Regions from separate parts of the Homo sapiens genome. Here region 2 is linked to region 1. A link means that fine-mapping ties the variant in region 1 to the plasma level of a protein whose gene starts in the linked region. Region 1 holds a variant in brackets. A gene starts in the other region. All regions are shown on their reverse strands.

Region 1 (8,966 bases):
GCTAACTTCTAGGTGGCTGCATTTGAATGGCTGTGAGATTTTGTCTGCAATGTTCGGCTGATGAGAGTGTGAGATTGTGACAGATTCAAGCTGGATTTGCATCAGTGAGGGACGGGAGCGCTGGTCTGGGAGATGCCAGCCTGGCTGAGCCCAGGCCATGGTATTAGCTTCTCCGTGTCCCGCCCAGGCTGACTGTGGAGGGCTTTAGTCAGAAGATCAGGGCTTCCCCAGCTCCCCTGCACACTCGAGTCCCTGGGGGGCCTTGTGACACCCCATGCCCCAAATCAGGATGTCTGCAGAGGGAGCTGGCAGCAGACCTCGTCAGAGGTAACACAGCCTCTGGGCTGGGGACCCCGACGTGGTGCTGGGGCCATTTCCTTGCATCTGGGGGAGGGTCAGGGCTTTCCCTGTGGGAACAAGTTAATACACAATGCACCTTACTTAGACTTTACACGTATTTAATGGTGTGCGACCCAACATGGTCATTTGACCAGTATTTTGGAAAGAATTTAATTGGGGTGACCGGAAGGAGCAGACAGACGTGGTGGTCCCCAAGATGCTCCTTGTCACTACTGGGACTGTTGTTCTGCCTGGGGGGCCTTGGAGGCCCCTCCTCCCTGGACAGGGTACCGTGCCTTTTCTACTCTGCTGGGCCTGCGGCCTGCGGTCAGGGCACCAGCTCCGGAGCACCCGCGGCCCCAGTGTCCACGGAGTGCCAGGCTGTCAGCCACAGATGCCCAGGTCCAGGTGTGGCCGCTCCAGCCCCCGTGCCCCCATGGGTGGTTTTGGGGGAAAAGGCCAAAGGGCAGAGGTGTCAGGAGACTGGTGGGCTCATGAGAGCTGATTCTGCTCCTTGGCTGAGCTGCCCTGAGCAGCCTCTCCCGCCCTCTCCATCTGAAGGGATGTGGCTCTTTCTACCTGGGGGTCCTGCCTGGGGCCAGCCTTGGGCTACCCCAGTGGCTGTACCAGAGGGACAGGCATCCTGTGTGGAGGGGCATGGGTTCACGTGGCCCCAGATGCAGCCTGGGACCAGGCTCCCTGGTGCTGATGGTGGGACAGTCACCCTGGGGGTTGACCGCCGGACTGGGCGTCCCCAGGGTTGACTATAGGACCAGGTGTCCAGGTGCCCTGCAAGTAGAGGGGCTCTCAGAGGCGTCTGGCTGGCATGGGTGGACGTGGCCCCGGGCATGGCCTTCAGCGTGTGCTGCCGTGGGTGCCCTGAGCCCTCACTGAGTCGGTGGGGGCTTGTGGCTTCCCGTGAGCTTCCCCCTAGTCTGTTGTCTGGCTGAGCAAGCCTCCTGAGGGGCTCTCTATTGCAGACAGCACTTGAAGAGGGTGCAGCTGCGGGAGCTGTCGGAAGCAGAGGTCAGGCAGCATCGGGAAGCCAGGCCCGCCCTGCTGACGTCCAGACTCCGCTTCATCCCCAAGCCTGACGGGCTGCGGCCGATTGTGAACATGGACTACGTCGTGGGAGCCAGAACGTTCCGCAGAGAAAAGAGGGTGGCTGTGCTTTGGTTTAACTTCCTTTTTAAACAGAAGTGCGTTTGAGCCCCACATTTGGTATCAGCTTAGATGAAGGGCCCGGAGGAGGGGCCACGGGACACAGCCAGGGCCATGGCACGGCGCCAACCCATTTGTGCGCACAGTGAGGTGGCCGAGGTGCCGGTGCCTCCAGAAAAGCAGCGTGGGGGTGTAGGGGGAGCTCCTGGGGCAGGGACAGGCTCTGAGGACCACAAGAAGCAGCCGGGCCAGGGCCTGGATGCAGCACGGCCCGAGGTCCTGGATCCGTGTCCTGCTGTGGTGCGCAGCCTCCGTGCGCTTCCGCTTACGGGGCCCGGGGACCAGGCCACGACTGCCAGGAGCCCACCGGGCTCTGAGGATCCTGGACCTTGCCCCACGGCTCCTGCACCCCACCCCTGTGGCTGCGGTGGCTGCGGTGACCCCGTCATCTGAGGAGAGTGTGGGGTGAGGTGGACAGAGGT[G/A]TGGCATGAGGATCCCGTGTGCAACACACATGCGGCCAGGAACCCGTTTCAAACAGGGTCTGAGGAAGCTGGGAGGGGTTCTAGGTCCCGGGTCTGGGTGGCTGGGGACACTGGGGAGGGGCTGCTTCTCCCCTGGGTCCCTATGGTGGGGTGGGCACTTGGCCGGATCCACTTTCCTGACTGTCTCCCATGCTGTCCCCGCCAGGCCGAGCGTCTCACCTCGAGGGTGAAGGCACTGTTCAGCGTGCTCAACTACGAGCGGGCGCGGCGCCCCGGCCTCCTGGGCGCCTCTGTGCTGGGCCTGGACGATATCCACAGGGCCTGGCGCACCTTCGTGCTGCGTGTGCGGGCCCAGGACCCGCCGCCTGAGCTGTACTTTGTCAAGGTGGGTGCCGGGGACCCCCGTGAGCAGCCCTGCTGGACCTTGGGAGTGGCTGCCTGATTGGCACCTCATGTTGGGTGGAGGAGGTACTCCTGGGTGGGCCGCAGGGAGTGCAGGTGACCCTGTCACTGTTGAGGACACACCTGGCACCTAGGGTGGAGGCCTTCAGCCTTTCCTGCAGCACATGGGGCCGACTGTGCACCCTGACTGCCCGGGCTCCTATTCCCAAGGAGGGTCCCACTGGATTCCAGTTTCCGTCAGAGAAGGAACCGCAACGGCTCAGCCACCAGGCCCCGGTGCCTTGCACCCCAGTCCTGAGCCAGGGGTCTCCTGTCCTGAGGCTCAGAGAGGGGACACAGCCCGCCCTGCCCTTGGGGTCTGGAGTGGTGGGGGTCAGAGAGAGAGTGGGGGACACCGCCAGGCCAGGCCCTGAGGGCAGAGGTGATGTCTGAGTTTCTGCGTGGCCACTGTCAGTCTCCTCGCCTCCACTCACACAGGTGGATGTGACGGGCGCGTACGACACCATCCCCCAGGACAGGCTCACGGAGGTCATCGCCAGCATCATCAAACCCCAGAACACGTACTGCGTGCGTCGGTATGCCGTGGTCCAGAAGGCCGCCCATGGGCACGTCCGCAAGGCCTTCAAGAGCCACGTAAGGTTCACGTGTGATAGTCGTGTCCAGGATGTGTGTCTCTGGGATATGAATGTGTCTAGAATGCAGTCGTGTCTGTGATGCGTTTCTGTGGTGGAGGTACTTCCATGATTTACACATCTGTGATATGCGTGTGTGGCACGTGTGTGTCGTGGTGCATGTATCTGTGGCGTGCATATTTGTGGTGTGTGTGTGTGTGGCACGTGTGTGTCCATGGTGTGTGTGCCTGTGGTGTGCATGTGTGTGTGTCTGTGACACGTGCATGTTCATGCTGTGTGCTGCATGTCTGTGATGTGCCTATTTGTGGTGTGTGTGTGTGCATGTGTCCGTGACATATGCGTGTCTATGGCATGGGTGTGTGTGGCCCCTTGGCCTTACTCCTTCCTCCTCCAGGCATGGTCCGCACCATTGTCCTCACGCTCTCGGGTGCTGGTTTGGGGAGCTCCACATTCAGGGTCCTCACTTCTAGCATGGGTGCCCCTGTCCTGTCACAGGGCTGGGCCTTGGAGACTGTAAGCCAGGTTTGAGAGGAGAGTAGGGATGCTGGTGGTACCTTCCTGGACCCCTGGCACCCCCAGGACCCCAGTCTGGCCTATGCCGGCTCCATGAGATATAGGAAGGCTGATTCAGGCCTCGCTCCCCGGGACACACTCCTCCCAGAGCGGCCGGGGGCCTTGGGGCTCGGCAGGGGTGAAAGGGGCCCTGGGCTTGGGTTCCCACCCAGTGGTCATGAGCACGCTGGAGGGGTAAGCCCTCAAAGTCGTGCCAGGCCGGGGTGCAGAGGTGAAGAAGTATCCCTGGAGCTTCGGTCTGGGGAGAGGCACATGTGGAAACCCACAAGGACCTCTTTCTCTGACTTCTTGAGCTATCGCAGCTACTTGCAAATCTCAGCAGAATTTTACCCTCATGGAAAGCTGATGGCCACCACCTGTGCCCAGGTGTAGAAAGTCACTAGAGCCCAGGAGACCCCCCCGTCCCCACCGCCCACCTGTGCCCGGGTGTAGAAAGTCACCAGAGCCCAGGAGACCCCCCCCCACATCCCCGCTGCAGCGGAAGCTACCGCCCCCACCGTGACCCTCGTTCCGACCTCGACCTCCATGGTCTCCCTCTCCCGGTCTCCATGTGAGTGAGATCAGGCAGGAGGTGGGTTTTGGGGTTCGAGCCTCAGCTATGCTGAACGCCTCAGCTGTGCGTTCTGTCCATGAATGGCATCCGTTGTGGAACTCGCCACGTGGATGTATCCTTCCCGCTGCTGTGGAGGCTCCTGGGTGCGGACTGCACGGCTGCGCCTGCTGTGAGCCTGCTGGGTTCTGGGAGTGTCCCAGGGGTCAGAGGCCCTCGCCTCTGGGTGAATTCCAGGGGTGGGGTTGCTGGGTCACAGACGTGCTTTAGGGATGTTGTGGGAGTTTCCAGGGGGGTGACAGTGACACCCCGGCTGGCTGCTTGTGAGGGCGATGCCTCCGGTGGCCGCTGGCCTGAAGGTGTCGAAGCCGCCTCGTGGGATTGTGCAGGGGGCTCTCTTGATGCCCACGTGCCCACAGTGTTCCCGTGCTGGCCGCCCCGGGGCTCTTGCGGGAGGTGGCTGTCCGTCCTGCCCCGCTCTGTATGGGGCGCCTGCCTGCCATCATCGGCTTGCAGGAGCTCTTTGTGTGTTCTGCTGCAAGTGTGGCATCACATGCGTGCACTGTGAATCTCTGTGCCGTGTGTGTCTTGCTTTTGTGCTCTCAAGTCAAGCCTTTTGAGGACTGGAAGATTGTACTTCTATCGCAGTCCACTAACACAGTCCAGTAACGCAGTCCACTTTATCAGCTGTTTGTGGCTAAAGCTGTTTGTGTTCTCTGCAGGAACTCAAGGTATTGAGGTTGTGGTGACGTTGCTTCTGCGCCTCCTTTTAGAACAGTCTTTACTGTGTCAGCTTGCAAACCTGGGTGGGGATTGGTGGAATTGGTTTTCATGTGTGGGGTAGGTGGGGATCTGTGGGATTGGTTTTCATGTGTGGTGTAGGTGGAGATCTGTGAATTGGTTTTCATCCGTGGGGTAGGTGGGGATCTGTGGGATTGGTTTTTATGTGTGGGGTAGGTGGGATTGGTTTTCATGTGCGGGGTAGGTGGGGATCTGTGGGATTGGTTTTCTTGTGTGGGGTAGGTGGGGATCTGTGGGATTGGTTTTTATGTGTGGGGTAGGTGGGGATATGTGAATTGGTTTTCATCCGTGGGGTAGGTGGGGATCTGTGGGATTGGTTTTTATGCGTGGGGTAGGTGGGGATCTGTGAATTGGTTTTCATCCGTGGGGTAGGTGGGGATCTGTGGGATTGGTTTTCATGTGTGGGATAGGTGGGGATCTGTGGAGTTGGTTTTCATGTGTGGTGTAGGTGGAGATCTGTGAATTGGTTTTCATCCGTGGGGTAGGTGGGGATCTGTGGGATTGGTTTCTATGTGTGGGGTAGGTGGGGACCTGTGGGATTGGTTTTTATGTGTGGGGTAGGTGGGGATCTGTGAATTGGTTTTCATCCGTGGGGTAGGTGGGGATCTGTGGGATTGGTTTTCATGTGTGGGGTAGGTGGGGATCTGTGGGATTGGTTTTCATGTGTGGGGTAGGTGGGGATCTGTGGGATTGGTTTTCATGTGTGGGGTAGGTGGGGATCTGTGGAGTTGGTTTTTATGTGTGGGGGTAGGTGGGGATCTGTGGAGTTGGTTTTCATGTGTAGGGTAGGTGGAGATCTGTGGGATTGGTTTTCATGTGTGGGGTAGGTGGGGATCTGTGGGATTGGTTTTCATGTGTGGGGTAGGTGGGGATCTGTGGGATTGGTTTTCATGTGTGGGGTAGGTGGGGATCTGTGGAGTTGGTTTTCATGTGTGGGGTAGGTGGAGATCTGTGGGATTGGTTTTCATGTGTGGGATAGGTGGGGATCTGTGGGATTGGTTTTTATGAGTGGGGTAACACAGAGTTCAAGGCGAGCTTTCTTCCTGTAGTGGGTCTGCAGGTGCTCCAACAGCTTTATTGAGGAGACCATATCTTCCTTTGAACTATGGTCGGGTTTATAGTAAGTCAGGGGTGTGGAGGCCTCCCCTGGGCTCCCTGTTCTGTTTCTTCCACTCTGGGGTCGTGTGGTGCCTGCTGTGGTGTGTGGCCGGTGGGCAGGGCTTCCAGGCCTCCTTGTGTTCATTGGCCTGGATGTGGCCCTGGCTACGCTCCGTCCTTGGAATTCCCCTGCGAGTTGGAGGCTTGCTTTCTTTCTTTTTTTCTTTCTTTTTTTTTTTTTTTGATAACAGAGTCTCGCTCTTTTTTGCCCAGGCTGGAGTGGTTTGGCGTGATCTTGGCTCACTGCAACCTGTGCTTCCTGAGTTCAAGCAATTCTCTTGCCTCAGCCTCCCAAGTAGCTGGAATTATAGGCGCCCACCACCATGCTGACTAATTTTTGTAATTTTAGTAGAGACGAGGTTTCTCCATGTTGGCCAGGCTGGTCTCGAACTCCTGACCTCAGGTGATCCTCCCACCTCGGCCTCCCAAAGTGCTGGGATGACAGGTGTGAACCGCCGCGCCCGGCCGAGACTCGCTTCCTGCAGCTTCCGTGAGATCTGCAGCGATAGCTGCCTGCAGCCTTGGTGCTGACAACCTCCGTTTTCCTTCTCCAGGTCTCGCTAGGGGTCTTTCCATTTCATGACTCTCTTCACAGAAGAGTTTCACGTGTGCTGATTTCCCGGCTGTTTCCTGCGTAATTGGTGTCTGCTGTTTATCGATGGCCTCCTTCCATTTCCTTTAGGCTTTGTTTATTGTTGTTTTTCCGGCTCCTTGAAGGAAAAGTTTCGATTATGGATGTTTGAACTTTCTTTTCTAAACAAGCATCTGAAGTTGCCGTTTTCCCTCTAAAGCAGGGATCCCGAGGCCCCTGGCTGTGGAGTGGCACCGGTCTGGGGCCTGTTAGGAACCCGGCGCACAGCGGGAGGCTAGGTGGGGTGTGGGGAGCCAGCGTTCCCGCCTGAGCCCCGCCCCTCTCAGATCAGCAGTGGCATGCGGTGCTCAGAGGCGCACACACCCTACTGAGAACTGTGCGTGAGAGGGGTCTAGATTCTGTGCTCCTTATGGGAATCTAATGCCTGATGATCTGAGGTGGAACCGTTTGCTCCCAAAACCATCCCCTTCCCCACTGCTGTCCTGTGGAAAAATCGTCTTCCACGAAACCAGTCCCTGGTACCACAATGGTTGGGGACCCTGTGCTAAAGACCTGCTTCAGCAGCCTCTCGTCAGTGTTGATATATTGGCTTTTCTGTGTTGAGTCCAGAATAATTACGGATTTCTGTGATGCTTTCCGCCGACCTCAGACCCATGGGCTATTTGTGGGCGTGTTGCCTGCTCCTGGGTTGGGAAGGGTGCAGGCCCCATGTACCTTCCTGTTACTGCCTTCCAGGTTGGTTCTCAGGGTTGAATCGTACTCGATGTGGTTTTAGCCCACGGCCCTGCCGCCAGCTCCTGGGGGCTGGGGAACATGCTGAAGCACAGAGTCACCGTGCGCGTCTTTTGATGCCTCACAAGCTCGAGGCCTCCTGTGTCCGTGTTAGTGTGTGTCACGTGCCTGCTCACATCCTGTCTTGGGGACGCAGGGGCTTAGCAGGTCCCGTAGTAAATGACAAGCGTCCTGGGGGAGTCTGCAGAATAGGAGGTGGGGGTGCCGGTCTCTCTCCCGCGTCTTCAGACTCTTCTCCTGCCTGTGCTGTGGCTGCACCTGCATCCCTGCAATCCCTCCAGCACTGGGCTGGAGAGGCCCGGGAGCTCGAGTGCCACTTGTGCCACGTGACTGTGGATGGCAGTCGGTCACGGGGGTCTGATGTGTGGTGACTGTGGATGGCGGTTGGTCACAGGGGTCTGATGTGTGGTGACTGTGGATGGCGGTCGTGGGGTCTGATGTGGTGACTGTGGATGGCGGTCGTGGGGTCTGATGTGGTGACTGTGGATGGCGGTCGTGGGGTCTGATGTGTGGTGACTGTGGATGGCGGTTGGTCCCGGGGGTCTGATGTGTGGTGACTGTGGATGGCGGTCGTGGGGTCTGATGTGGTGACTGTGGATGGCGGTCGTGGGGTCTGATGTGGTGACTGTGGATGGCGGTCGTGGGGTCTGATGTGTGGTGACTGTGGATGGCGGTTGGTCCCGGGGGTCTGATGTGTGGTGACTGTGGATGGCGATCGGTCACAGGGGTCTGATGTGTGGTGACTGTGGATGGCGGTCGTGGGGTCTGATGTGTGGTGACTGTGGATGGCGGTCGTGGGGTCTGATGTGGTGACTGTGGATGGCGGTCGTGGGGTCTGATGTGTGGTGACTGTGGATGGCGGTCGTGGGGTCTGATGTGGTGACTGTGGATGGCGGTCGTGGGGTCTGATGTGTGGTGACTGTGGATGGCGGTCGTGGGGTCTGATGTGTGGTGACTGTGGATGGCGGTCGTGGGGTCTGATGTGTGGTGACTGTGGATGGCGGTCGTGGGGTCTGATGTGGTGACTGTGGATGGCGGTCGTGGGGTCTGATGTGTGGTGACTGTGGATGGCGGTTGTGGGGTCTGATGTGTGGTGACTGTGGATGGTGATCGGTCACAGGGGTCTGATGTGTGGTGACTGTGGATGGCGGTCGTGGGGTCTGATGTGTGGTGACTGTGGATGGCGGTTGGTCCCGGGGGTCTGATGTGTGGTGACTGGATGGCGATCGGTCACAGGGGTCTGATGTGTGGTGACTGTGGATGGCGGTCGTGGGGTCTGATGTGTGGTGACTGTGGATGGCGGTCGTGGGGTCTGATGTGGTGACTGTGGATGGCGGTCGTGGGGTCTGATGTGTGGTGACTGTGGATGGCGGTCGTGGGGTCTGATGTGGTGACTGTGGATGGCGGTCGTGGGGTCTGATGTGTGGTGACTGTGGATGGCGGTCGTGGGGTCTGATGTGTGGTGACTGTGGATGGCGGTCGTG
Region 2 (15,727 bases), not on the chromosome of region 1:
GATATTTTTATCCATTTTTGATTTGTTCAGATTTCATATTTCTCAATGGTTTAGTCTTGATAGGCTGTATGTTTGTAGGAATTTAACCATTTTTTTCAAGTTTATCCAGTTTCTTGGCATATAGTTTTTCATAGTAATCTTTTATGGCCATTTTTATGTCCATGGCGTTAGTTTTAATGTCGTGTCTTTAATTTGTAATTTTGCTTGTTTATTCTCTCTTATCTCAATCTAGCTAAAGGTTTGTCAATTTAGTTTATCTTTTTCAAAAAAGCAACTCTTAGTTACATTAATCTTTTCTATTGCTTTTCCTTGTATCTATCTTATTTATTTCTGCTGTGTTCTGTGTTATTTTCTTTATTCTGCTGAAGTTGAGCTTCATTTTTTCTTCTTTCTCTAGTTCCTTGAAGTCTCAGGTTAGGTTGATTATTTGAGATCTTTCTTATTCCCTATTGTTGGCTTACATTGCTATAAATGCCCTTCTTAAAATTACTTTTCTGCTGCATAAATGTTTTGTTATGTTTTGTTTCCATTTTCATTTTTCTTAAGACTTTTATTTTCCTTTTTTGGACCCACTAATTGTTCAGAAGTTAGTGGTTTAATTTCAACTTATTAGTGAATTTTCTCATTTTCATCTTGTTGATGTTTATTTAGTCTTATTCCATTGTGTTCAGAAAAAAAAATACTTGATGTGATTTAATCTTCTTAAATGTTTTATTAAGAATTGTTTGTGGCTGGACATATGGTCTATTCTGGAGAGTGTTCTGTGTGTGCTGAATAGAATGTGTATTCTGCTGCTGTTGGATGGAATGTTCTGTACATGTGTGTTGAGCCAGTTGTTCAAATCCACTGTTTTCTTATTGATTTTCTGTCCAGATGATCTATCCATTGTTGAACATGTGGTTTTGAAGTTCTCTACTGTATTTTGCATTTGCTACTATTTTTGCATTTGCATTTTTGCAGAAATGCAAAATAGTCTTCCTTCAGCTCTGTTAATATTTGCTTTATATATTTAGTTGCTGTCATGCTGGTTGCATATGTATTTACAATTAATTGCTATGCCTTCTTGATGAATTGTCCCCTTTATCATTATATAATGCTTTTTTGTCTTTTGTCACAGTTTGGACTTAAAATCTCTATTTTGTTTGATATTAGTAGACATATCCCTGCTCTTTGTGATTACCCATTGTATGAAGTATGTTTTTCCATACTGTCACTTTCAGCCTATCTGCATCCTTCAAGCTGAACTGTGACTCTTGTAGAAAACATAAGTTGGATCTTGTTTTTCTATTTAGTCACTTTATTCCTTTTTATTGGAAAATTGAATCTATTTTCATTTTAAGTAATTTTTGATACTAAGAACTTACCACTGCCATTGTGTTTTCTGTCTCTTTTGTAATTCTTTTGTTCATCTGTTCCTCTCTTGCTGTCTGTCTTTGTGATTTGATGACTTTTACCAGTATGTTTTGTTTTCTCTTTATCATCTGTGTATCTAATATTCGCTTTTTATGTAGTTACCATGAGACTTAGAATATACATCTTACATAAAATTGTGTACTATTTGCATATAACCTTCACATATCTATTCATGTATACTTTAAATCATCTCTAGATGTAAGCATAATATGTAATATTATGTAAATTCTATGTAAATACCTGTTATACTGTATTTTAAAATTTGTATTATTTTATTGTTATTGGGTTTTAAAACATATTTTTGATCTGTGGTTAGTTGATAATCTGGATGCTGAACTTGCATATATGGAGTGCTAACTGCATACTGGTTTCCTTGATGGTATCCCATAAGTCCCACATGCTTTCATCACCTTTTTCTTTTATTTTTGTTACTGTTGCTTTTGAGTGGGCAATTTCAAATAATCTGTCTTGTGGTCACTGCTTTATTTTTCTGTGTTATTGAGCCTGTTATTTCCAGCTTTCTCTAGAAATTTTTAGTTCAGTCATTGTGCTCCAGAATTTCTATTTGGTTCCCTTTTATGCTTTCTATCTCTTTGTCAAATGTTTCATTTTTTTGAAGTATTGTTTTCCTGTTATCATTTATCCACAGCAAAGGGCCTGGAGCCTGGGTTCACTGTAGCAGGCCTCTATCCTGGGTCTGCAGGTGGCATACTAGATTCTAAGTCTGCAGTTGGTGGCCTGGAAGCTAGGTCTATAGGGGTTGGCCTGGATGCTGGATCTGTGGGAGCAAGCCTAGTATGTGTCTGGGCCTGAAGGATGAGTCTGTGGGCTAAGCCTGGATCCTGGGGCTGTGGGGGGTAATTCTGCAGCCTAAGGCCATAGGCTGGCCTGGTGCTGGGGCCTACTGAAGCAGGTCTGGTCTCGGGGTCCACTGGAGTGTGGGGCCATGAATACTAGCATAGAGCCTTGGTGTGTGCATGCTGGCCTCATGCCTAGTGCCATGTAAGCCAAACTGGAGGTGGGGTCTGTCAGTTTTGTTCTGACACTCTAGCAGGCCTGGAGGCTGGGTCTGTGGATGCCAGCATGGAGTCTAATGCTGTGGGGACTAGCCTGGTGCTGGGGCTTCTCCAGAGTATGGGAGGGGCCTGGAACCTCAATATATAGGGACTGGCCTATAGCTGTGGTGAGCCTGGTAACTAGGCCAGATATATTAGTATGGATAATTTACCTATCATTTATGTGCCTCAATTTTCTCATGTATAAAATAGGAGCAATGTCATGGTTTTTGCCGAGACATGGGGGAGGGATAATATGGATAACATAAAACTTTCTTTCCTTCCCTCTTTGATGTGTCTTTTCTTATTTCTGTGCTATGTCCAGGTGCTATAATCTCTCGCCTGGATTCCTTTACTCTTGTGAACATATTTTTGTTCATGGATAGTTTTATTTTTTGTAATTGTCATTGTTTGTGTTGCTTGTTTGTTTTGGTTTTTAAGAGAGTTTTGCTCTGATCACCCAGGTTGGAATGCAGTGGCATCATCTATAGCTCACTGCAGCTTTAAACTCCTGGGCTCAAGCAATCCTCCCACCTCAGCCTTTCAAGTAGCTGATACCACAGGCTCATACCATGACAATAGGCTAATTACTTTTTTTTTTTTTTGTAGAGATTGGGGTCTCGCTTTGTTGCTCAGGCTATGGATTGTTTTTCAAACTGATGTTTCTACAAGAGGATGAGTGCTGAAAAGTTCTATCCAACAATGTTGCTGCTGTCACTCCCACTTAATGTTTTATATGTTTACTTGTTTCACTTTTAAAAATGGAGCTAATTATGGAGCTGCTCTGGAAGGGTTAGTGAAATAACTTACATAAATTACCTAGTATAGTGCCTGTATATAGTGCACATCCAACAGACAGCAATTCTGCCCTTTCCAATTAGTAAATTGCTACAATAAGAGTAATTCCACTTTCCTGTGATTATAAAGATTGAATGAGGTACATGTATACAGGACTTTAAAGGGTTATATCCCACATTACTTTAAAGTAATATTATTAACAAATACATGTGTAGAATAGTCATTATTGCAGAGCCTTCTGGTCAGTGTGTGCTGAGCTTCTGAGCATAGGCCTGCTAAGGTATAGAGTAGGCATAGAGGGTTTGGCTACTTGTCTGAGTCAGAACTACATTTGAAGTGATTTGAGTAAGGTGAGAGCAGACAATAAGGGGAAGTAATGATAAGGAAAGTACTCATGTAACCAAATACCACCTGTACCCCAATAACTTATGGAAAAATATTAATTTTAAAAATAAAAAAATAAATAAATGAAAAGAAAAAGAAAAATAGAAGGAAGCTAGGGGACAGGATTCTTTTTTCAACATTAGAAATAGTGTTTTCCAAGAAAAGAGTGACCACTACTGGAAAAAGCTGTGGATAAATCAAGTAAGAAGACGAGTGAAAAAAGCAAGTCGGGCAGTTCCAACATGGCCGAATAGGAACAGCTCCAGTCTACAGCTCCCGGCATGAGCGACAAAGAAGATGGATGATTTCTGCATTTCCAACTGAGATTCGAAGACACTAGTTGTTCTCCCAGAACGCAGCTTGAGATCTGAGAATGGACAGACTGCCTCCTGAAGTGGGTCCCTGACCCCCAATTAGCCTAACTGGGAGGCACCCCCCAGTAGGGGCAGACTGACACCCCACACGGACAGGTACCACTCTGAGACAAAACTTCCAGAGGAACGATCAGGCAGCAACATTTGCTGTTCACCAATATCTGCTGTTCCGCAGCCTCTGCTGCTGATTCCCAGGAAAACAGGGTCTGGAGTGGACCTCTGGCAAACTCCACAGACTTGCAGCTGAGGGTCCTGACTGTTTGTTAGAAGGAAAACTAACAAACAGAAAGGACATCCACACCAAAACCCCATCTGTGCGTTACCATCATCAAAGACCAAAGGTAGATAAAACCACAAAGATGGGGAAAAAACAGAGCAGAAAAGCTGAAAATTCTAAAAATCAGAGCCCCTCTCCTCCTACAAAGGAAAGCAGCTCCTCACCAGCAACGGAACAAAGCTGGATGGAGAATGACTTTGACAAGTTGAGAGAAGAAGGCTTCAGAGGATGAAACTTCTCCGAGCTAAAGGAGGAAGGTCAACCCCATCGCAAAGAAGTTAAAAACCTTGAAAAAAGATTAGGCAAATGGCTAACTACAATAACCAATGCAGAGAAGTCCTTAAAGGACCTGATGGAGCTTAAAACAATGGCACAAGAACTACATGATGAATGCACAAGCCTCAGTAGCCAATTCGATAAACTGGAAGAAAGGGTATCAGTGATGGAAGATCAAATGAATGAAATAAAGTGAGAAGAGAAGTTTAGAGAAAAAGGAAATGAACAAAGCCTCCAAGAAATATGGGACTATGTGAAAAGACCAAATCTACATCTGATTGGTGTACCTGAAAGTGATGGGGAGAATGGAACCAAGTTGGAAAACACTCTGCAGGATATTATCCAGGAGAACTTCCCCAATCTAGCAAGGCAGGCCAACATTCAAATTCAGGAAATACAGAGAATGCCACAAAGATACTCCTCGAGAAGAGCAACTCCAAGACACATAATTGTCAGATTCACCACAGTTGAAATGAAGGAAAAAATTTTAAGGGCAGCCAGAGAGAAAGGTTGGGTTACCCACAAGGGGAAGCCCATCAGGCTAACAGCTGATCTCTCAGCAGAAACTCTATAAGCCAGAAGAGAGTGGGGGCCAATATTCAACATTCTTAAAGAAAAAAATTTTCAATCCAGAATTTCATATCCAGCCAAACTATGCTTCATAAGTGAAGGAGAAATAAAATCCTTTACAGACAACCAAATGCTAAGAGATTTTGTCACCACCAGGCCTGCCCTAAAAGAGCTCCTGAAGGAAGCACTAAACATGGAAAGGAACAACTGGTACCAGCCACTGCAAAAACACGCCAAATTGTAAAGACCATTGAGGCAAGGAAGAAACTGCATCAACTAACGAGCAAAATAACCAGCTAACATCATAATGACAGGATCAAATTCACACATAACAATATAAACCTTAAATACAAATGGGCTAAATCCTCCAATTAAAAGACACAGACTGGCAAATTGGATAAAGAGTCAAGACCCCTCAGTGTGCTGTATTCAGGAAACCCATCTCACGTGCAGAGACACACATAGGCATAAAATAAAGGGATGGAGGAAGATCTACCAAGCAAATGGAAAACAAAAAAAAGGCAGGGGTTGTATTCCTAGTCTCTGATAAAACAGACTTTAAACCAACAAAGATCAGAAGAGACAAAGAAGGCCATTACACAATGGTAAAGGGATAAATTCAACAAGAAGAGCTAACTATCTTAAATATATATGCATCCAATACAGGAGCACCCAGATTCATAAAGCAAGCCCTTAGAGACCTACAAAGAGACTTAGACTCCTACACAATAATAATGGGAGACTTTAACACCCAAATTTAAACAAAAGACAGACCAACGAGACAGAAAGTTAACAAGGATATCCAGGAATTGAACTCAGCTCTGCACCAAGTGGACCTCATAGACATCTACAGAATTCTGCAACCCAAATCAACAGAATATACATTCTTCTCAGCACCACACCGCACTTATTCCAAAATTGACGGCATAGTTGGAAGTAAAGCACTCCTCAGCAAATGTAAAAGAACAGAAATTATAACCAACTGTCTCTCAGACCACAGTGCAATCAAACTAGAACTCAGGATTAAGAAACACACTCAAAGGCGCTCAACTACATGGAAACTGAACAACCTGCTCCTGAATGACTACTGGGTACATAACGAAATGAAGGCAGAAATAAAGATGTTCTTTGAAACCAACGAGAACAAAGACACAACGTACCAGAATCTCTGGGACACATTTAAAGCAGTTTGTAGAGGGAAATTTATACCACTAAATGCCCACAAGAGAAAGCAGAAAAGATCTAAAATTGACACCCTAACATCACAATTAAAAGAACTAGAGAAGCAAGAGGAAACACATTCAAAAGCTAGCAGAAGGCAAGAAATAACTAAGATCAGAGCAGAACTGAAGGAGATAGAGACACAAAAAAAGCTTCAAAGAAACCAATGAATCCAGGAGCTGGTTTTTTGAAAAGATCAACAAAATTAATAGACTGCTAGCAGGACTAAAAAAGAAGAAACGAGAAGAATCAAACAGATGTAATAAAAAGTGATAAAAGGGAGATCACCACCGATCCCACAGAAATACAAACTACCATCAGAGCATACTATAAATACCTGTACGCAAATAAACTATAAAATCTAGAAGAAATGCATAAATTCCTCAACACATACACCCTCCCAACACTAAACAAGGAAGAAGTTGAATCTCTGAATAGACCAATAACAGGTTCTTAATTGAGGCAATAATTGATAGCTTACCAACCAAAAAAAGTCCAGGACCAGATGGATTTACAGCCGAATTCTACCAGAGGTACAAAGAGGAGCTGGTACCATTCCTTCTGAAACTATTCCAATGAATAGAAAAAGAGGGAATCCTCCCTAACTCACTTTATGAGGCCAGCATCATCCTGATACCAAAGCCTGTCAGAGACAAAACCAAAAAAGAGAATTTTAGACCAATTTCCTTGATGAACATTGATGCAAAAATCCTCAATAAAATACTGGCAAACCAAATCCAACAACACATCAAAAAGCTTATCCACCATGGTCAAGTGGGCTTCATCCCTGGGATGCAAGGCTGGTTCAACATATGCAAATCAATAAACATAATCCAGCATATAAATAGAACCAACGACAAAAGCCACATGATTATCTCAATAGATGCAGAAAAGGCCTTTGACAAAATTCAACACCCCTTCATGCTAAAAACTCTCAATAAATTAGGTATTGATGGGATGTATCTCAAAATAATAAGAGCTATTTATGACAAACCCACAGCCAATATCATACTGAATAGGCAAAAACTGGAAGCATTCCCTTTGAAAATCAGCACAAGACAGGGATACCCTCTCTCACCACTCCTATTCAACATAGTGTTGGAAGTTCTGGCCAGGGCAATTAGGCAGGAGAAGGAAATAAAGGGTATTCAATTAGGAAAAGAGGAAGTCAAATTGTCCCTGTTTGCAGATGACATGATTGTATATCTAGAAAACCCCATTGTCTCAGCCCAAAATCTCCTTAAGCTGATAAGCAACTTCAGCAAAGTCTCAGGATACAAAATCAATGTGCAAAAATCACAAGCATTCTTATACACCAATAACAGACAAACAGAGAGCCAAATCATGAGTGAACTCCCATTCACAATTGCTTCAAAGAGAATAAAATACCTAGGAATCCAACTTACAAGGGATGTGAAGGACCTCTTCAAGGAGAACTACAAACCACTGCTCAACGAAATAAAAGAGGATACAAACACATGGAAGAACATTCCATGCTCATGGATAGAAAGAATCAATATCATGAAAATGGCCATACTGCCCAAGGTAATTCATAGATTCAATGCCATCCCCATCAAGCTACCAATGACTTTCTTCACAGAATTGGAAAAAACTACTTTAAAGTTCATATGGAACCAAAAAAGAGCCCACATTGCCAAGTCAATCCTAAGCCAAAGAAGAAAGCTGCAGGCATCATGCTACCTGACTTCAAACTGTACTACAAGGCTACAGTAACCAAAACAGCATGGTACTGGTACCAAAACAGAGATATAGACCAATGGAATAGAACAGAGCCCTCAGAAATAATACGACACATCTATAATTATCTGATCTTTGACAAACCTGATAAAAACAAGAAATGGGGAAAGGATTCCCTGTTTAATAAATGGTGCTGGGAAAACTGGCTAGCCATATGTGGAAAGCTGAAACTGGACCTCTTCCTTACACCTTATACAAAAATTAATTCAAGACGGATTAAAGACTTAAATGTTAAACCTAAAACCATAAAAACCCTAGAAGAAAACCTAGGCAATACCATTCAGGACATAGGCATGGACAAGGACTTCATGTCTAAAACACCAAAAGCAATGGCAACAAAAGCCAAATTTGACAAATGGGATATAATTAAACTAAAGAGCTTCTGCACAGCAAAAGCAACTTCCATCAGAGTGAACAGGCAACCTACAGAATGGGAGAAAATTTTTGCAATCTACTCATCTGACAAAGGCCTAATATCCAGAATCTACAATGAACTCAAACAAATTTACAAGAAAAATCAGACAACCCCATCAACAATGGGCGAAGGATATGAATAGACATTTCTGAAAAGAAGACATTTATGCAGCCAACAGAGGCATGAAAAAATGCTCATCATCACTGGCCATCAGAGAAATGCAAATCAAAACCACAATGAGATACCATCTCACACCAGTTAGAAGGGCGATCACTAAAAAGTTAGGAAACAACAGGTGCTGGAGAGGATGTGGAGAAATGGGGACACTTTTACACTGTTGGTGGGACTGTAAAGTAGTTCAACCATTGTGAAAGTCAGTGTGGCTATTCCTCCGGGATCTAGTACCAGAAATACCATTTGACCCAGCCATCCCATTACTGCATGTATACCCAAAGGTGCATAAATCATGCTGCTATAAAGACACATGCACACGTATGTTTATTGCAGCACTATTCACAGTAGCAAAGGCTTGGAACCAACCCAAATGTCCAACAATGATAGACTGGATTAAGAAAATGTGGCACATATACACCATGGAATACTATGCAGCCATAAAAAATGATGAGTTCATGTCCTTTGTAGGGACATGGATGAAGCTGGAAACCATCATTCTTAGCAAACTATCGCAAGGACAAAAAACCAAACACCACGTGTTCTCACTCATAGGTGGGAATTGAACAATGAGAACACTTGGACACGGGAAGGGGAACATCACACCCGGGGCCTGTTGTGGGGTGGGGGAAGGAGGGAGGGATAGCATTAGGAGATACACCTAATGTAAATGATGAGTTAATGGGTGCAGCACACCAACATGGCACATGTATACATATGTAACAAACCTGCATGTTGTGCACATGTACCCTGAAACTTAAAGTATAATAAAAAAAAGAAAAAAAAAGATGAGAGAAAATGTTTCCTAAAATTTGGCAGTTAAGTGGTCCCCTGTAGCTTTAGGGAGAACAAATGGGGCTAGAAGCCAGATTATAGTAGGTTGGGGAGCTAATGGAAATTAAAGTCATGGAAACAGTTATTAGAGAAAACTCTATCCAGAAATTTGGCTAAGAAAAAAAATGAGACGAGGCTGTTGTTTGAGAAAGAGGAAATGTGGTAGAAGGGTTGATTTTATTTTGTAGTGGGAGGAATTCAAATATGTTTACGAGTTAAAGGGGTAGGCACAGAAGACAGGTAAATAATGATGCCATAGAGAGTGGGGGTAATTGATGGAGAAAGATTCATAAATATCAGGGGAGGCATTCTCTCCTCTTCTTCAAGAGGAAAGGCCAAGATGAATGAAGACAGAGAGAACCTTATAGGAATTAGGGAAGAAGTTATAGGCACTAAATGCCTAATAGAATCTGTTTTATTGATGAAGAAGAAAAGAGTCAATGTTTCTGGGCTAAGAATTCAGTGCTAAAGTAGGAACTTAACCTTTACTTCTAAAGGTAGAGGTTTAGAATAGCTCTTCAGAGAGGATGGAAGGAGCCTCTGATTGGAAGGGAAAGCAAGGATTGTACATTTGAGTGTGACAGTGAATAATTAAGGCATCAGCTATTCTTGAGAATCCTGGGTCAATTGCCACTTATTGGTTGTGGCACTGATAGATGGCATAGATAAGTCACCTATCGTTTCTGTGCCTCAATTTTGTCATCTATAAAATAGGAGTGATGTCATGGTTTTTGCCTCATAGGATTATTGTGATGATTAAATGAGCTATTGCATACAGAACATTTGGCATAGGGCCTGACATATAGAGTTCATCAAGCATTGATCAAGTGTTGGCTATTATTATTATTTTGGGTGTGGGTTTCAATTCCTTTTTAGCCATCTTATTTTTATTGTGGCACACCTGAGGCCTGGGAGCTCATTATAGAAGGATACATTCAAATGTGAACATTTTTCTCCTTGGGCTTATTCAACAGATATATTGATATATATAATATGTAAAAATGTATTGAGCGCTTAAAATACTCTAGGTACAGTTTTGCATGTGGAAATTTGTGAAATGGTATATAAGGTCCCTGCCACATAGGTTCACACTCCAGTGAGAGAAGTTAGAATCAGGCCAGAGGGACAATGGAGGGTGGGAGGAACTCTGTAAAATCCCTGCACTTGAGGGGCAAGTGGAGAATGAGAATCCATAAAATGCTGTAGAGAAATAAGTGAAACTAGAAGACATTAGTTCCATGAAAGTCAAGGGAAGAGAGTCAGAAAGAAAAGAATCCAGACAATGTTGGATGTTTTAGATAATTCAAATAAGAAAACAGAAGAATCCATGGGTTTGATAGTATGAAAATCATGGGTGACCTTGAGAAGAGCAAAATGTAGTGAGTTTGGAAATGAAGAGGTGGAGGTGAGGATATGAAAAGAATTAATCTTAGTTCAGAATGGAAAGACAATTTAGGAGAAAGAGCCAGAGGAAGAAAGACCATGAAGATACAAATAAAGCAAAATGGAATAGACAGGAGTAAACACAGATGGAGACAGGAGGGACAGGAGGAAACTCTGAGGTAAGAAACAGGATGAACTTGAATGTGGAGATGTCAGAAGTTGTTTAGACTTCAAGTTTCGTGCCCTTTTACATTCTCGGTGAAACTGGAGGTGAAGTCATCTGCTAGGGGTTTGGGAGCTGTGTTGAGCACTTGACTTAAGAAGAGTGAGTTTTAAAAGCCATCTTGGGCAAGTGGAATAGAAGATTATTTAAAATGAGAGATAACACTATTGGACTGTGCTAGAATCTAGCTGAAGTTTGAAAATTCCCATGGCTAGAAGTAACTCTTATACCCCAGCTTTCTAATTCAGAAGACCTAAGCCTGTATACACCACTGCAGCAAACATTTATGGCCAAGTTTATCTACACACATCTCACAGGCTAAAGAGAACAAGAAGCTGATATTGTGTTCAGGGACATCCTTAGCAATGTTTGAGTTTACAGGGGTTGCCCCACAGGCCTCAGCATCCCCTTAGTCTTTCAGCTTCTTTTCCTGCCCCCTGGTCCCAGTCTTGAGAGGAGCTATAAGGGCCCCATTCTGCCTGGATAACCATGAAGCTCCTTCATGAAAGGTGGTCCTGCCATTGTTGGACACTAGAATTAGAGGCTACCCAGGATTCTCTGAGACACAGCCAAGGCCAGTATTCCCCTGAGTGACCCTAAGTAACCTCTGAGAGAGAGCTGAGGGGTGGCATCAGAGAGCCCTGAATCTCACTGAGCCCCAGAATCTGTCTGGTCCCAGAGATAAGCAGAGTGGAGGCTGGTCCTGCCTATCCTGCTGTCAGGTTAGGCTGGTTCCAGCAGTAGAATGTAGGTAGAGAAACTCTGTACTGATAGTTCTCAGTTTGGGTTCACAAAGTGACTCCTGTTTATCATAAAAGGAGGGGCTGTGGAAAGCCCCCAAGAAATTAGCTGATCCAAACTTAGTTCTGCTGCACAAGCACATGGAGCTAGAGTGGCTCCCCCACAGAGAGCAGAGTTGAGAGCCTTAACCCTACTCACCACCACACTGCACCGGGGGTCCTGGGGCTATGTTGAGAAAAAGCTCACCTACCCAGTGGATTTCAAAAGGCCTAGGCAATCCCATTAGCTTGTACTAGCTAGGGTATTCAAGAAAGTCCACTTTGATAAAGTGACATTTAAGCAGGGATATGGAGGAAGTGAGAAAAGGAGCCATGCTGATATCTGGGGGAAGAATTGGCTAGGCTGAAGGAGCAGCAAGTGCAAAGACCAGAGTCTTGAGCATGCTTTGAGTGTTGGAAAAAATATCAAGGCCGCCAGTTGGGGTTGGGTATGGTGGTCAAGGCGAGTGGTAAGAGGTGAGATCAGAGATAGAGGGGCAGGTTAGTGAGGATGGGATGGCGTGGGATAGATTGTAGACTATTATAGACCATAGTTAAGGATTTTGGGTTTTCTGCTGAATAAGAAGCCAACCAGTAGAATTGCTTGGACAGACTTAGACTGATGTACTTTTAAAAGGATCATTCTGGTTGCTCTGCTGAGAATTGACTGGAGTGGGGTAAGCATGAGAGCAAGGAGAGCTATTGGAGGATATGGCAATAATTCAGGTGAAAAGTAATCGTGGCTTGCACCAGAGTGGTTGCAGTGAAGGTGCTAAGAAGTTGGTGAAATTCAGAGTTTATCTCTGAGGCAGGAGGCAGAGCTGATAGGATGTGCTGATGGGTTGAATGTGAGGTGTGAGCAAAAGGAGAGGGGAGGATAATTCTAATGATTGTGGCTTCATAGATTATGAAGATAAAATGAATTAATTCATGAAAAAAATTTGAGCAGTGCCTGGCAAGTGCTTAGTGAGGGCCAGCTAACTGTTATAGTATTATTGGACAAGTTATGGTGGAGGACAGTGGTTTCATATTTGCTGCTTATAATCACTTTCCACAATAGCTTGTGGACTCTGACATATCCCTGGTACCTCTATCTCAAGTTTCCTCCTGTACTTCCAGGCAGAATCACAGAGTACAAGGAGCCTCTTCATCTACAAAATGAGGATGGTAACCTCAACCTCATAGAATGGTTGTAAGGTATAAAGGGACACATATGCATGATTTATAGGTGCTCAGTAAATGTTATTCTTGTCCACCTTCTAAACCTTTGCTACTAAAACTATGGTCTGTGGCCCAGCACCATCAATATCACCTGGAAGCAGTTAGAAAATCAGAGTCTTAGTCCCACACCACAGCTGCTAACTCAGAATCTGTGTTTTAACAAGATCCTTAGGTGATTTGTGTGCACATTAATATGAGAGAAGCACGGCTCTAGCGTTTCAAGGTCATCCAGTCCAACAGTCTCTTCAGGATACAGATGCAGAAAGGAAAACTAAGAGAGAGGAAGAGATTTACATGATGTTACACTTAGTTTTGTCAAGACATCTAAATTCCAAGCTAGGGTTCTTTACACTAAAGTTTCAAAACTGTCTGTAATTCAGCTTCTCTGGGTAGGAAAGGATGGAGAAAAAGAAGAGGTCCTGTTTTCTAGGAAAGGACAGAACAGAATTAGGAGGTACCCAGGGTAGCTATTTTCATTTGAATCTCACAGATGATTTCAGAGGTCCCTAAATTGCATTCATGTATTTATTTATATTTAATAAACACTTCTATACCACTACGTCCCAGAAATCATTCTAAGCTCCTTACGCATATGAACACTATTTTGTATATTAACTCATATAATACCTAAAACAATCCTATGAGTAAGGGATTGTTATTTTCCCCACTTTACAGAAGAGAATCCTGAGCCACAGAGTGGTTAAGTAACTTGCCTTAGGTCACAAAGCTAGTAAGGGGCAGACCTAGGATTCCAATTCTGGCAGTTTTCCCTTCTACTAGGCCTGAGCCCACAGTAGCCTATTCTGGTCTTAACTCTAGCTAGGGGACAGATATGAAGTTCATTTAGGACTTTTTCTACTTCAGCTTAGGGCCTATTCAGCCCTTTCCCACCAAAGGCTTTTCAGCTGCTTTACTGAGACTCCACCCTGAGCTGGCATATAGCCTCTGCCCAGTACAGGAGGGGTCCCTCAGAGACTGATAATGGCTCATTTCTTGGTCCTCTCCCCCATACCTTGGCTCAAGCTTTTCTTTTCCTCTACCCATTAGGCTATTTCCTCTTTGACCTCTTTTAAAAGCTCCTAATCTATTGAAAAGCATTTGCTTTCCTTGTCAGACTCTTTTTTACTCCTTCTTCCTACTGGCCCCCAAACCCTTCCAGTCTGCACCTCATAGTTTGGCCCTTAATTCTCTGTCTCTGTCCGGTCTACTTTATCTTCCCAGCTCTGCAAACTCTTCAAGGTCAGGGACTAGTAACGTTTCGGGATTTATCCACCGCTGCCTCTGAGATCATGGATTAATAAACTCCCAAAGTGTCATTGTTTGAAGTGCCCTTAGAGACTACGTAGCTCAACCCCCTCCTTGTACAGACACTCAGGGGCCCAGAGAAGATGGATGATCAAAGCTGAGTGCCGAATCCAATTTTCCTTTATTTTTAGTGGTCTTTTCCCTGCTTCATGTCTGCTCTCTTCCTCCTGTCACAATCCTATCTACCCTTCTGAATGGAGGAGTATTTTTTTGAGGCAGATGCAGAGCTGGAAAGCGGCTTCTCCATGTGTCTGAAAATTTTGGCTTTTCCAACAATAATTTTCCCTGTCAAACTCCAAGCCTGCTAAGTCATGAATAAACTTTGATGAGCTGAGCTGCATTCAGCTGTGAAAGAGACAACTTGATGCTTTCTCTGGACCCCACTCCCTGGCCCTCTACTCTCTGGCCCCCGCTTCAGTCCCAGGAGATTTGCAGCTCCTGCCATACCAGTGGCTGGGTCACTGTTCTTCAGCCTCACATTGTTCCTCTCAAAGGCAGTTTCTTTTCGTAGCCACGCCTAGGCACTCAAACAGTCCAATAGCTGCTCTAGGAACTTCACGGGGGCGGAAGAGGTAAGCTTACCGTGAAAGGAGGGTTTGGGCTGTTGTTGCTACACGTGGATGTGAAATGAGTCAAGCGGAACTTTGATTACAAGGAATTTCATATACTGTGAGTGTGTATGCAGGCTGGGGGCTGAGGGGCGGGGGCTGAGGGGCGGGGCTGATGGGCGGGTCTGAGGGGCGGGGGCTGAGGGGCGCGGGGTGAAGGGCGGGGGGTGACGGGAGGGGGCTGGGTGAGATGTGTGCTCTGCGCTGAGGTGGATTTGTACCGGAGTCCCATTTGGGAGCAAGAGCCATCTACTCGTCCGTTACCGGGTGAGTGTGGGAACACCCCCTGGTGTGGCAAGGCGGCTGGGACCTGCGGCATCTAGGTGCAGAAGTACAGAATCAGGTCAGGATGATCCTGCTAGGGTACCGCAAAATCAGAACAATTGGGAAGGCGCCCTGTGGCTGGCTGTCAGTCCATCCATTTGTGTCCGGAGAGCGCTTTCTGAGGTATCAGGGATCTGGGCTGACATCTCTAGGATCTTGGCGAGCCATTTCCTGTAGGCTCTTACTGGACCTGCATTGCCTCTGAGAACATGCCTGGACGTGTCCAACAACCTTGAGCATCTAGGGTTGGGAGATAAAGAAGAGAAGGAGGCTGGGTGTTAGTGAAGGCGGGGACAGTGGATCAGACTTGTGGAGCATCCTGAGGAAAGCAGAACTGC

Alleles and levels. Positions count from the first base shown, and alleles are read on the strand shown. Strength reflects both the effect of a copy and how common the allele is.
For the plasma level of the protein whose gene starts at base 15,249 in region 2, A is the low allele of the variant in region 1 and G is the other (weak association).

What was found. PIP is the posterior inclusion probability: the model's chance that the variant is causal. The UK Biobank Pharma Proteomics Project read protein levels with antibody pairs (Olink). The fine-mapping took linkage between variants from a reference panel, not from the people measured, so its PIPs are less certain.
Region 2: EDA2R starts here. The variant in region 1 is fine-mapped to the plasma level of the EDA2R protein (UK Biobank, PIP above 0.99).

The regions. Positions count from the first base shown.
Region 1 is chr5:1,272,692-1,281,657 of GRCh38, reverse strand. TERT (telomerase reverse transcriptase) reads left to right here. Exons shown (of 16, transcript NM_198253.3): 4 at 1,320-1,500; 5 at 2,188-2,367; 6 at 2,862-3,017. Among named protein-coding and RNA genes, the nearest start is that of TERT, 18 kb to the left of the region's middle. RefSeq lists a silencer at 4,670-4,964. The variant G/A (reference allele first, on the strand shown) is at 1,983.
Region 2 is chrX:66,638,600-66,654,326 of GRCh38, reverse strand. EDA2R (ectodysplasin A2 receptor) reads left to right here and starts at 15,249. Exons shown (of 7, transcript NM_021783.5): 1 at 15,249-15,332. RefSeq lists an enhancer at 15,429-15,727.